Linked DNA regions of Homo sapiens: region 1 is linked to region 2. A link means that fine-mapping ties the variant in region 2 to the expression of a gene that starts in the linked region. Tissue or cell type: whole blood. Region 2 holds a variant in brackets; the other region holds the start of a gene. All regions are shown on one strand. Distances are from middle to middle.

Region 1 (5,000 bases), 93 kb after region 2:
TGAATCTTTTAACATCTGCTATTTCCTACTGATGCCAGTTGGATGTTGTAGTTACATATCAATGTTATCTTATTAGATAATGAAGAAAATAGACTTATGTTAGAAATCACTCATTTATTAGTAAAGATTTCTTAGCAGATGGAGAAAAACACATTAAATCATTACCTGTAATTGAAAAAGGGAATCAATCTTAGGGCTTTTAAATTATAGATATTTTAAATAAATGATGAGCAAAGTAACTCATATTTTAATACTCCTCTTCAGTCCTTAAATCCAGTAGTAAAATAGTATGGATGTTTAATACTTAATGTACTACATTGAGGGATCCCTAGAATTAAAACAAAACGTTTAAATTTGAGTGATTGATATGGAGTCTAAAAAAGTGGAGTCTAAAGGCCAGAAGTTGATAGCATCTTCCATTTCTGTACAAAGGGGAGCTAAGAAATTTGGAAAGCATGGAACATTCTTCAACAATATTAACTTTTCCTTGCTCTGGTTCTCTGCTTTTGATATTCTTATGTAAAAGTTTTCTCACGAGAAGTGAAATAAATCTCAGTGATTAGTTTTTCTTGTGTAGACTCTAGAAGAATATGTCATCATTTAATGAGAGAGAACACAGAAGCAATTTGCAAAGTCAAAGTAATACAGTTAATTATAGTCATGAGGTTCTTTTAGCTCAAATTCAGTCTTCTCATAATAAGCATTTCAATTGCAAATAAAAATGGATAGAGGTGAATGTCATAGGTGGCTACCTTATTTGAATGCTTGTATTTGAATGGCCACATATAGTCACACACTTTTTCTTCTGATTCTGCAAACATAACCTTGATTTTTTAGGCACTTTAAGAACTAAGTAGTTAAACAGAGAAAGTTTAAAGCATGACAATATGTTCAGAGTTAGGAAAAATTAGTAATTAAAGGAGGATGGGGAGGATTATTTAGAACTATGTTTCTTCTCCTGAAAACTTTCTCCCTTATTGGATTCTACTCTCAAGATCTATGTGTTCCCCAAGGGACACACAAAACAATCAATCAAACAAACAAAAACCATCAGATTTTGAGCATTAGAGCCTGGTGTTTACCTGCACAGTGTTGGTCCTTTTCCCATTAATATGTTGGAATAGCACAAACAGCCACTGCCACTTATTCAGTACCTAATATTAATCAGGCACTGCAGTATGTAGTTTACACATGATCCTTTAATCTTTAATAAACCCATTATGCAGATGGGGAAAATGAGACTTTGAGATACTAAAGTAACTTGCATAAGACAGCTCAGTCATTAAGTGCAGGGATGGCATGCAAACCAAATCTGACTTTTAAACGTTACTTCATCACCACAGCTGGAGGTGAGCTGCATCAGTACACAATTCCCAGTGAAGACAGGAAGTTACATAAGGAGGGAGAATTTGTGAGTGGGTGAATAGAGCAGAAGGTGACTTTACTAACGTCTTTCGCGCATTCATTAGCCCTCAGCATGCTTAAAGGTGAAGTTTAAGGATGATTAAAGGTGAGGTTTTCTTCTTACCCCACAGTAGTGGCTGTTGACATTTGATATTTTTGCTCTTAAAGGTGTGAGATGCTCTTTGCATTACAGCCTAGTGCCTTACAGGAAAGAATTTCAGAGAAACTAAAATTCGTTTTAGTCCATATTTCAAGTAGTGTGTTTTAGTCCATATTTCAAGTAGTGTGATGGTACTGCTTAACAATGAACAGACATTGCTGTTCCGGGTTAACAGGACTAAGAATTTGTTCCCACATTCGGTCAGCACCAAGGCTAAGGAACAGCTTCACTCTCTAATCTTTCCACGAAATAGCTGTCACCTTGCTCCGGTGCTGAAGTTCGGGATGCGGAACTAGCTGAGCATGCGTACTTCCTCCCTGCCGGCCCTCCCTCCGTCCCGTTGGCTCCGCCCTCCGCGGACGTGCTGCGTCAGAATGCGCCTCACCCCTGGCGACCCCGGAAGTGGGTCGGGGGCTTGGCCTCTGCCCGGCCACAGAGCCGGAGCTGGAGGTGCTGTCCCGTCTGGCGGCGATCCCCGGGCAGGGCCCGGGGCCGGGGTTTGAAGATGCTGAACGTCCCTTCCCAGTCTTTCCCGGCCCCCAGGTCGCAGCAGCGTGTCGCCTCCGGGGGGCGTAGCAAGGTAAGCGGGTGGCTCCGTGAGTCTCTCCCCTCGCTGCGTTTCGAGCTCTGGCAGTGTGTTCTCTTCTTCCGCCCCAACTCCCAGCTCCTGCACCCCTCTCTAAGCTGTCGTTCCCTGCTGTCCTTGCCTGCAACCTCTTTCTGATCCCACTTTGTCTACAGTCCCTAAACTCTCCTTACCTCCTCCCTTTCCCCTAGCAGTCCCTCTTCTTTCTGGTCCTTTATCCCGCTCTATCCGTTCCCTTCCTCCAAGTCCTTTCCCGCGATTTAAATTTATATGACAGAGCCAGGCACTGTGTTTGCGGTATTATAGGCTCTCGGTATTAGCCGCCTTCCCTCAACCTCATCTTCTCCCTGGTCTTTTGTTCTTCACTGCCTGAAGGAGTTGTACCACATCACTCGATGTGGGTTCCCTCGCAGGAGGGAAAGGCTTGGCAGTGGCGACAGTGACCGTCCGTGCAAGGATGGGGACTTCTGGAGTTGGGGAGCTAGGTCAGGTTTACAGACACTATCCAAGACATACTGCCTTTCTTTCTTCCTCTGGTACCTGATTGTTTTGTCATTGCCTTTTCTACTAGTATCACTTGCTAACTTCGAAGCAAATATAATAATACTCTTGAGTTCTTGTTGAGCACAGTTGCTGTTAGCAACAGGTGGAATACTGTACAGATATATTTTATATTTGCAGAATTCAATAAAAATTGTGTTCTTTGTTCTTTTGCGAATGTTGTTTGTTCCTATTTGTTAGTTCCTCATTCTGTAACCATATCTTTATCTTTCGTTTGTGACACTTCCACTTAACTTGGGCCACTCGGTTAACTCTTGAGTCTTAGCATCGTTTGGAACCCTTATCGATTTTCTTATTTTTCTCCACTTAGACCTGGCGTTCTGATTCTAGTTCAGAATGAATATAGGTTCAGGGATCTGTGGTTTTCATTAGCTTTCCAGAGATTTCTTAAGTACTTACGGGTGGCCGTGTATATTCTCAGTGCTTTGCATGTATTAACTTTAATTTTCACAATTATCCTTTGAAGTGAAAGCTTTTATTGTCTCTATTTCGCAGAAAAGGAAACTGGCTAAGAAATATTGCCCTAAATTGCGTAGGCTTGTGTTGTGGTTCTGCTGTGAAATTTCATTTACTGATTCATATATCAATCATCTAGCCATCCAATCATGTATATTTTTCTCATTGGTTTTTGACCTATTTCTTGAAGCTAAATACTTGACTGAATAACAGTCTTTCCAGAAAGAATCTCTGAATTAGAATATGAGTTACTGCCCTTCTTCGTTAAAAATACCAACTGTGTTCTTAGCATCCATTTAAAGGAGAAAACTTAGAAGCAAAGACAAAAAGTCACACAGGGGGCGATGGCAAAGGTGAGTTTTTGGTCCAAAAAGAGAACAAAATAAGATTATTGTGCAATTCTAAGGAAAAGTCAGACTCCAGTCTTCTTCCTCTTTTCTTTGTGAAACAAGATGATGCTGAGAATGTAAAAACTGAGTCAGGTTTGGATGAAATGGGTAGAGGTTGAGAAAATAGAACCAAGTTGGGAAGGTCGTGTATTATACAAAAGGTTCTCAAATAGTGTTGTTTCATTCAACAGCATTTAGTTATAATATTGATGAGAAAAAAAATTCGTTTTGGCCAGGGCCACTGTCTTTGGAGTTTGCATGCTCTGTGTCTGCGTGGGTTTTCTCTGGGTACTCTGGTTTCCTGCTACAGCCCAAAGATATGCAAGTTAGGTTAATTGGTGTGTCTAAATGGTCCCAGTCTGTGTGAATATTGGGTGTGTATGAGTGTGCCTTGCCATAGGATGGCATCCTGTCCAAGGTCGGTTCCTGCCTTGTGCCCTGAGCTACTGGGATAGGCTCTGACTACCTGTGACATTGAACTGGAATAGTTGGGTAAATAATTATCTTACTTGTTTTTTAATTAATCTTTCTTAAATGTATATATAGCTAACATTTCTTTCAGTGTTTAATATTAGAAGTATTTTGGTCTTTATTTAGAAGTCTGGTGATGTTTTTGTGACCAGAAATATGCTGCAGGAAATTTTGTTTGTCAATTAACCCACGGTAAAATTAGTTTCGTTGTACATAGTTTAGTTTCCAAGCACCTAGTGACTAGCTTAAGTGAAGGCTTATTGTAATTTTTTAAAGGCACAGATTTTGAAGTGAGAAAGACCTAGATTCTTTCACCATATCTGCCAGTTAATCTCTTTGAGTCTGTTTCCTCAGATGTAAATGAGAATAACAGTACCCATTTTATAGGATTGTTCATAGGATTCAATGAGATAATGTTTCTCTTAGCACAGCCTTGGTAAGCACCCAGTAAATGCTACTTGTCCTGAGGCTTTTATTCAGATCTCACAGACTTGAGTGTGACACAGAATATGCACTCAACATATGATAGTTATTATTTCTATTAATACTGGTAAACAAATACTTATTGAGAACCTACCATATGCTGGAGTTTTTGGTCTCTGATTTCAAGGTGTTTAGTCTCATAGGTTGCATGAAATAGTGAACATTCAGTTATAAAGTCATAAGTACTACAACAGGGTGGTATGACCACTAAGGAGTTGAGGATCAGAGAAGCCTTCCAGAGGAATTAATGGGAGTTGGAGTGAGGTTGATCCATGCAGGGAAAGCAACACTACTATAAGCAAGTACTTGACAGCAATAAAGGAATCAAATAATCAGTTCCCATTTGGCTAAAGTATATAATGGAAAGGAGCAAAAGTTAGAACATGGAGCTAGTACAGTCAACTGTGACCAGATTGTGAAGACCTGGTAAATCCCTAGGGAATTTAGAGACGTTGTTGTAAGGTGACCTGAGGAGCCACTGAAGGAGGGA
Region 2 (7,624 bases):
TGTCAGGTAGAGATATAAAAAGACACCTGAGAGAAATATATATCACTTCTTTCATATTTATTTATAGATACTCTTATGCATTGTCATTTTTAAATAGTAGAAATTATCAAAGAAAGTTTTCATGGGAAAAGAGACAGAAATGTTCACTCACTCTTAGGTGAAAGAGATCTCTCGGACAGCCCATGGAATCTACATAGAGTGGGCTTATTAGGGAAAATACACGCAGTTCAAGATTTGGGATTCCATCGTGTAATACATATAATGAAGTGCTGGTTTGAATCTTTTTTCCCTAATGGCAGCAGCAGCAGCTAGGAATCAAGAGACCTTGGCCAAATTGCCTCACCTTCTGGGCCCTCAGTTACCTCCTCTGTATATAAGTGGTTCTCAAACCTAGATGCAAATTAGAATCATTTGGGAGCTTTTTAAAAAAATCTATCATTATAGGTTATTTTTGCCTTTCTTTGAACTTAATAAAACAAAATAATACAAAATGTACTTTTTTCTGCTAGCTTTTTAAGTTTAACATCATTTCTGTGAAATTTTCCTTGTTGCATATACTAGTAGTTATTCTTTATTATTGCTGTAAAACATTCATTGTATAAATATGTCATAATTTCTCCATTCTCCTGTTGGTAGTCATTTGGGTTGTTTCTAGTTAGGGGCTATGAATAGAATACTGCTATAAAAATTCTCATCTGTGTCTTATAGTATAAATACATACTCATTTCTTCAGGGTAGGTATCTTATCTTGCCTTATAGTATAAATACATACTCATTTCTTCAGGGTAGGTACCTAGAAGTAGAAATGCTGGATCAAAGGGGTTTGTATATTTATCTTTAATAGCTATTGCCAATCAATTTTCCAAAGAGGTAGTGCTAAACAGCAGCGTATGAGTTCTGGTTGCTCCATATCCTTTCTGACCCTTGGTATCATCATTTTAAAAAATTTCAACCATTCTGGCAGATGTGTCATGATATTTCATTGTGGTTTTAGTTTGCTCTTTCCTACTGGCTATCAATCTTGAGCACTTTCTAAAAGTTCTTATTGAACCTTTAGGTAAAGTTTTTTATGAAGTGCCTGTTTAGAGTTTTTGCCCTCTAAAAATTAGTTTGCTTTTCTTTATTGAGCTTTAGTCGTTCTTTATATATTTTAGATACAAGTCTTTTGTTAAACATATCTATTAAAAAATTATTTTCCCTCTCTGTGACTTTTCATTTAGTTGATACTGTCTCTTGATAAAGAGCATTTATTATTTTAATAAAGTCTAATTTAATGAAATGTAATTTGTTGTGGTTTATGATTAATGTTTTTTGTGTCTTACTTAAGAAATCTTTGCCTTCCCCATGGCCATTAAATATTCTATATTTTCTTCTCAAAACTGTATTATTCTCAAAGCATTTATATTTAGATGTATCTACAATCCATTTGGAATTAGCATAAGTTAAGGCTCAGGTTTCATTTTTCCATATGCATATCTAATAATTTATTAAAAATATTTTTTGCATTTAAGTTCATGAGATATATGGGGTTATAATTCACTGTTCTTATAATGTCTTTGCCAGTTTTTTTAAATCTGGATTATGCTGGCCTCATAAACAAGTTTGGAAATGTTTCCTGTTTCTCCATACTCACAGAGTTTATGTAAGAGTAGTGTTATTCCTTCTTTAAACATTCAGAAAAATTCACCAGTGAAGCCATCTGGTCAGTTTCCAAAATCAAAGTCTTGGTGGGTTTCTGGAATAGCCTTCTAGTTATTCTCTAGCCTGTGTATGCCCCCCACCCCACCCCCACAATTTTTTTTTGCTTATTTGATCAGTTATGAAGTCGTTTTAAAGTACAAAAGAGGAATTAAATATCATTGCAAAAGATTTTCTGAGAGTATTCACACTAATTCCCCAGAGGAAATTCTAGTTATGGTTTAGAAAACTAGGAATCGTGTCATTTCTCCATTTAAGTGGATTTAAGTGCATTTAAGTGGATGGAAATGGGGAAATAATAGTGTGTAGGTGTGATAAGTGTTCTTTCCTTTTTGTACCAAACAAAATAGGAGAGCTGTGTCTGTGATCTAAGGATGTATTTGCTTATTTGTTAGATTTCTAAAAATGTGCTGCTGGGTATTTATAAAAATAAGCATTGTAATTAAACAAACTAAATGGTATGGCTCTGTTGAACTGTGAGTTTTGTTTTCACACAGAAATGACTGCAGTCCTATTTAGGGGAGGGGTAGAGAATAAATGAGTAGGTTGTCCAGGTAACAAATATTACCACTGTCTGGGAAAAATGACTGCCTCCATTAACTTAGCAGTATATGAAGTGACTTTGAAAGGATTAGCTACTGCAGCAGGTTGGAATTTTATAGAGACTCAATCTCTGTCTCCCTCACTTTTTCCCTCCGCCCCAGCTTTGACCTTCCATACTTACATTCCGGCTCCTTTGACCTCCCTGACTCCCACAGTCTTGCCAACACAGCTTAACTACATGCAGAAGAACACCCATCTCCCAACAAAATCCCCACAAAAACTCGAATGAAAACTAGATGGTAAAATAATTCAAATGGGCAGAAAATAAGACCAATAAAGTCTGTCTGAAGCGGTGTGATATGGTTTGGCTGTGTCCCCACCCAAATCTCAGCTTGAATTATCATTCCCATAATTCCTACATGTCATGGGAATTGTCCCTGTGGGAGGTAATTTAATCGTGGGGGCGGGTCTTTCCCACACTGTTTTCCTGTTAGTGAATAAGAGATCTGATGGTTTTATAAAGGGGAGTTCCCCTGCACACGCAATCCTGCCTGTGGCCATGTAAGATGTGCCTTTCTCCTCTTTCGCTTTCTGCCATGATTGTGAGGCCTCCCCAGCTATGTGACACTGTGAGTCCATTAAACCTCTTTTTCTTTATAAATTACCCAGTTTAGGGTATGTCTTTATTAGCAGCGTAAGAATAGACTAATGCAAGATGCTATAATGTTTCATTTGGGGTTGTTTAGAACTAGATGTGGGCCTTGGAGTGTGAGCTCCCTGGGGACTGAGGAGATCCTAGGAGTTAGAAAAAAATCATTGGAAAAATTGAAAGCAAACTTGAGAGTTTTTAGAGAAGGTTTCAAAACATGAAGAAGTAGTTACAACATAAATAACTTTGAGCCTCTGAACCAGGGATATGTAATTGGTGATAATTTTATGAACAAAGTTGATAAACGTTGTTAAAAAGTTTAACAATTTAACAAATTGTTAAACTGTAACAAAAAGTTACAGTTGAAATAGATTTAAGCAATGAAATGAATATGACCTGGAAATGGGGGTGAACCTGTAGCTCAAAGAGAAGAAATTTCGCTTTCCTATTAATAAGGAGGCTGGGAGAATTGGTTCTGATTTTCAAGGAAGATGCAAGTACACAGAAATTAGGAAAGGGCCTATGAAACTGCCATAAAATGCCATCACATTTGTCGACTTATGCCAAAAATAATGTATCGCTCCAAACTCATGAGGCTGTAACTCACGTGCTTTACAGGTAGTAAAATGTTTGTGCATCCCATACAACTGACTAAAGAAATGGGGAAAGGACAGTGTGAGAACACGAAGGATCATGCTCCAAGGAAACAGTCTCGTCAGGGGAATCTTCTGGTCTACTGGGTGTTAGACATAGAAGGTAAACTAGGTGAAACTGCTGAAAGCCTTTTTGCAGCTGTATTTTGCCATCTTATATGGCTGTGACATAGCAGCCAAGACAAAGATTGTTTACCTAGCTTCAAAGAAAGTCCAATTTGGTTGGCTGCAAGAATTCCATGTGTAACCTTGTGTAAGTGTTTTGACCTCTAGGGCATGATTTACAGCTTTGCCTTTTTTGTAGTCTTTGCATTGCCTCAGCCCAATAGGAATCCCCTGGGCCCTGATGTCAGCAGTCTAGGATTTTCAGACAAACAAGTGTTTCTTGGCTGTCACGAACCATGTTAAATTGTTCCCAACTGCGCTTCTGTGAAACCATGAAGCATTATATCAGACCATTAGATGTACTGATCCTCTGTCCCACCCCATCTTGCTTGCTGGTCTCTATGAAGCTGGTACTGATGTGCTCAGCTATTGTTCTTCCTACTGTGCCTT[C/T]CCTGTTGGGTAACCTGAATTCACAGTTTCACTTCCTTTCCAGAAACGAACCAGAAATATTTTGTTCATTTGTGGTGAATGAAGTGCCTGACGAGAAAGAGGAATGTAGCTTAATTCCAGTGTTGAATGTGGCTCTTGAGGCCAGTATATGCTAAAACTCAGAATAAGGATCCCTTTCCAATTCTTTCTCTCTTCTCATCCTTTGTGGTTAGTTATACTAGAGACAAATCAGTTGGCAGGGAGTCATTAAGGCTGGAGATTAAGCTACACTTCTAGGCAGGAGGATAACTGCTAATGACCCTCTAAATTCCACTTTTCTAGCCCTAAACACTAATTATTTTAAATATTTACTGTTTCATATATATTTACTGTTTAATATTAAATATTTACTGTTTAAAATATAATTATTTTAAAATAAAATTATTGTTTTGCTGCTTGCATGCTGGCAAGTGAAAGCACATCTAGGAGATCATGCAGGTGAGATGGGCCAGAGGGACCTCCAAAAGAAAATAGCCCAAGTTACATGTGTCCCTACCTTTGCTGTTGACCATAGACAGTGAAATCTATAAATCTGTGTGGAGCCTTCTCTGATTCTTGCAGAGTTTGGGCTCACACTGAGTTCATTAAAGCCTTGCTGATGGGCTCATTTTTTGCTAATCCCACTGTAGTTATATTTTTCTACCCTGCTCTTCTGCCTCAAAGCTACAGAAAGTGCTTGGGTGTCATGGAGGGGTTGCTCTTTGATCACTCTCTTCTCTTTGTCTATAGTAGGAAATTAACAAATGTTGACTGAATGTGCGAGTGAGTGAATGTTAGGGATTTCTGGACAATATCAGTCAAGGGAATGTGAAAGAGCAGAGCAGCCAAGGAAGGAAAATAGGGCTTGGAAGAATGGACTGGAAGACAGGTCCAACGGTAAACAGATTTGAGGAATACAAATGGATAAGGTTTTGTAAGGAGGGTTAGCAAGTTTGTAAAACAGTGCTCCCTAGATGCTAAAAATGAAGCCGTAACCTCTCCCAGCTTCTTCTCATCTGCTTGTGCACACCAATGGTAAGACATAGGGAAGAAGAAGTAGGTATTTGACTAGTACTTGTGTTGGGGGTGGGCTTAGAAAGTATTCAAGGGGGTAAAGCCACCAGACCTCTAGTCACTCTTCCTTTCACATCTTGAGTTTGTATGCATTGATTCTCTTTCCTTAGGACTTCTCAAGTCCATCTCTTCTCCATTCCGATGGCATGCCTTAATTCCAATCCTCACGTCATTTCTTACCTTGAAGCCTAGAGTGATCTTCTAATTCATTTCTTAGACTTCAGTAGTACCCGTCCAATCCACTGCCAACACTGCTACCAGAGAGATCTTTATAAAACAAAAATCCAATTGTATTACTGCCTTACTGAAAATTATTTAGTGGTCACATTGTCCTCCAAACTTGGGGGCTGCAAGACACTTTATGATCTTCCCTCACCTACCTCTTCAGCCTATTTCTTGCCAGGCCCCTAGCATTGCTGAACCACCTGCAGTCCCAGGGATTTACAGTGAATTTCTAACCTCTGTTCCTTTCTACAAATGGCTCCATCTGCCAGGAATCCTCTGTGTTCTTCCTCTTCATCTTTGCCAACCTCCTACTCCCATCACTGAGGTGACTCTTACTTATTCTTTTAGACATTGTTCAGGCATCATCTTACCTGAGAAGTCTCTCTGGAATCCCCATCTTCCTTTCCTCTCCTGGATGATTAGCTTCTTGAAAGTAGAGACTGAGGCTAGAATAGTAATGGGTACGTGGTGGGTATTCAGTAGCTATTTGAAAAAAGAAATGAGAGAAAAATAGAAGACTATACTGAGATATTGATCATTGCCTGCCCTGCTCATAGCCCTTTCTGTATCCATGTGATCCTATCCCTCAGCCTGAGTGGATTAGGACCATCAATGGCCTGGCTTGAAAAGACCAGCTGAGCCAATCAGATTTATTTATTGGTATTTTGGAGTTGGGGAATGAGAAACTGAGTGAATTAGAAAAGACAACTGGAGTTGAAGGTATGATGTAGAGTCAGGATATAGAGGCATGGTGGAAATGGAAATTATAGGAAGAAGAAGTTAGTTAATAGATGCGAATTGAGCAAATGCACACAGAAAAACAAAGATGTCATGAGAGAAAGGTCATATGAGAGACAGAGAGAGAGAGAGAGAGAGAGAGAGAGAGAGAATCTTCTGTTGTTCCTAACACTTTTTCTTGGGTGGGTTCCTGCAAAATCTGTTTTGTTTTGGGGGGTGATTTTTTTTTTTTGACAGTGTCTCACTTTGTCACCCAGGCTGGAGTGCAGTGAGCCATCTTGGCTCACTGCAGCCTTGACCTCACAGGCTGGAGTGATCCTCCTGCTTCAGCCTGCTAACTAGCTGGGACTACAGACACACGCCACCACACCCAGCTAAGTTTTGAATTTTTTGTAGAGGTGGAGTTTTGCCATGTTGCCCAGGCTGGTCTCCTGGACTCAAGGGATCTGCCTGCCTCAGCCTCTCAAAGTGCTTCTATTACAGATTTGAGCCACTGCAGCTGGCCTTTTTTTTTTTTTTTTCCCTTCTTCTTCTTTTTGAGTCAGGGTCTCACTCTGTCGCCCAGGCTGGAGTGCAGTGGCCTGATCTCAGCTCACTGCAACCTGCAACTCCATGGCTCAAGCAATTCTCCAGCCTCAGCCTCCTGAGTAGCTGAGACCACAGGCACATGCCACCATACTGAGGTAAAATCTCTGGATTTTAACATTAAATCATTATGGGAACTAATATGAGCAAATTTCTGTTCTGAGTATGTAAAGGAGTCTAAACTGAAATAGCAAGAGAAGAGAGAAAGGGAGAGAGGAAGAGAAGAGGGAAAGAAAAGAGCAAATAAGGCTGGTTCTAGACCACCAACTTCCCTTTTCCCCTAGGCTTCTGTTTGCTTGGGATTTACTCCATGCCAGAAAGGAACAAGGAAACCCATTCCCTCTCCACTAGCCCTGACCAGGGAGGAAGTCTGCCCAGGGTTTGACATCCATAATTTCTCCATGCCTATGGGCCCACCTTGGTCACTCACTGCTCCATAGCATTGTCATTGTGAATTATGCACAAATAAACAGAGGTCTGAAGAAACACCATAAATCCCTGGTGCTAACATAAAGAAATTAATTAAGAAAGTTAAAAATGTTAAATATCTTATTGAACCCCAAACACAGTTCACAAAAACAAAACTTCAGTAACAAAAAAAAATTCGGTCAAAGATATATTTTTGATCTTAAGAAATTGATTAATAAATGTTTTTAAAAATATGCATGAATTAAATATCAATGCTATCAAAAAAAGTTGCAAAATAAATGAGAGACAAAAATTATTTTGTTTCTAGTTATGTATCTGAACAATTGTTTTATTGGTTGCTTGTTTGGTTGAAACTTAATAATTTATTATGCAAAATGGACATGAGGATTTATAATGCCAAGAAATAGAACTCTGTTTTGCTCTTTTTTGGATTTCTCAAAAGGAATACCTTGAAAGA

What was found. PIP is the estimated chance that this variant, and not a neighbour inherited with it, causes the effect.
Region 1: CYB5R4 starts here. The variant in region 2 is fine-mapped to the expression of CYB5R4 in whole blood (INTERVAL, PIP above 0.99). The same link has a PIP of 0.9 or more in blood mononuclear cells.

Annotation. Positions count from the first base shown.
Region 1 is chr6:83,857,714-83,862,713 of GRCh38, forward strand. It overlaps CYB5R4 (cytochrome b5 reductase 4), which reads left to right and starts at 1,976. Exons shown (of 16, transcript NM_016230.4): 1 at 1,976-2,144. The coding sequence starts at 2,070. All of the region lies in intron 3 of RIPPLY2-CYB5R4 (RIPPLY2-CYB5R4 readthrough), which reads left to right. RefSeq lists a silencer at 2,047-2,096.
Region 2 is chr6:83,763,111-83,770,734 of GRCh38, forward strand. No RefSeq gene overlaps it. Among named protein-coding and RNA genes, the nearest start is that of SNAP91, 58 kb to the left of the region's middle. The variant C/T (reference allele first, on the strand shown) is at 4,099.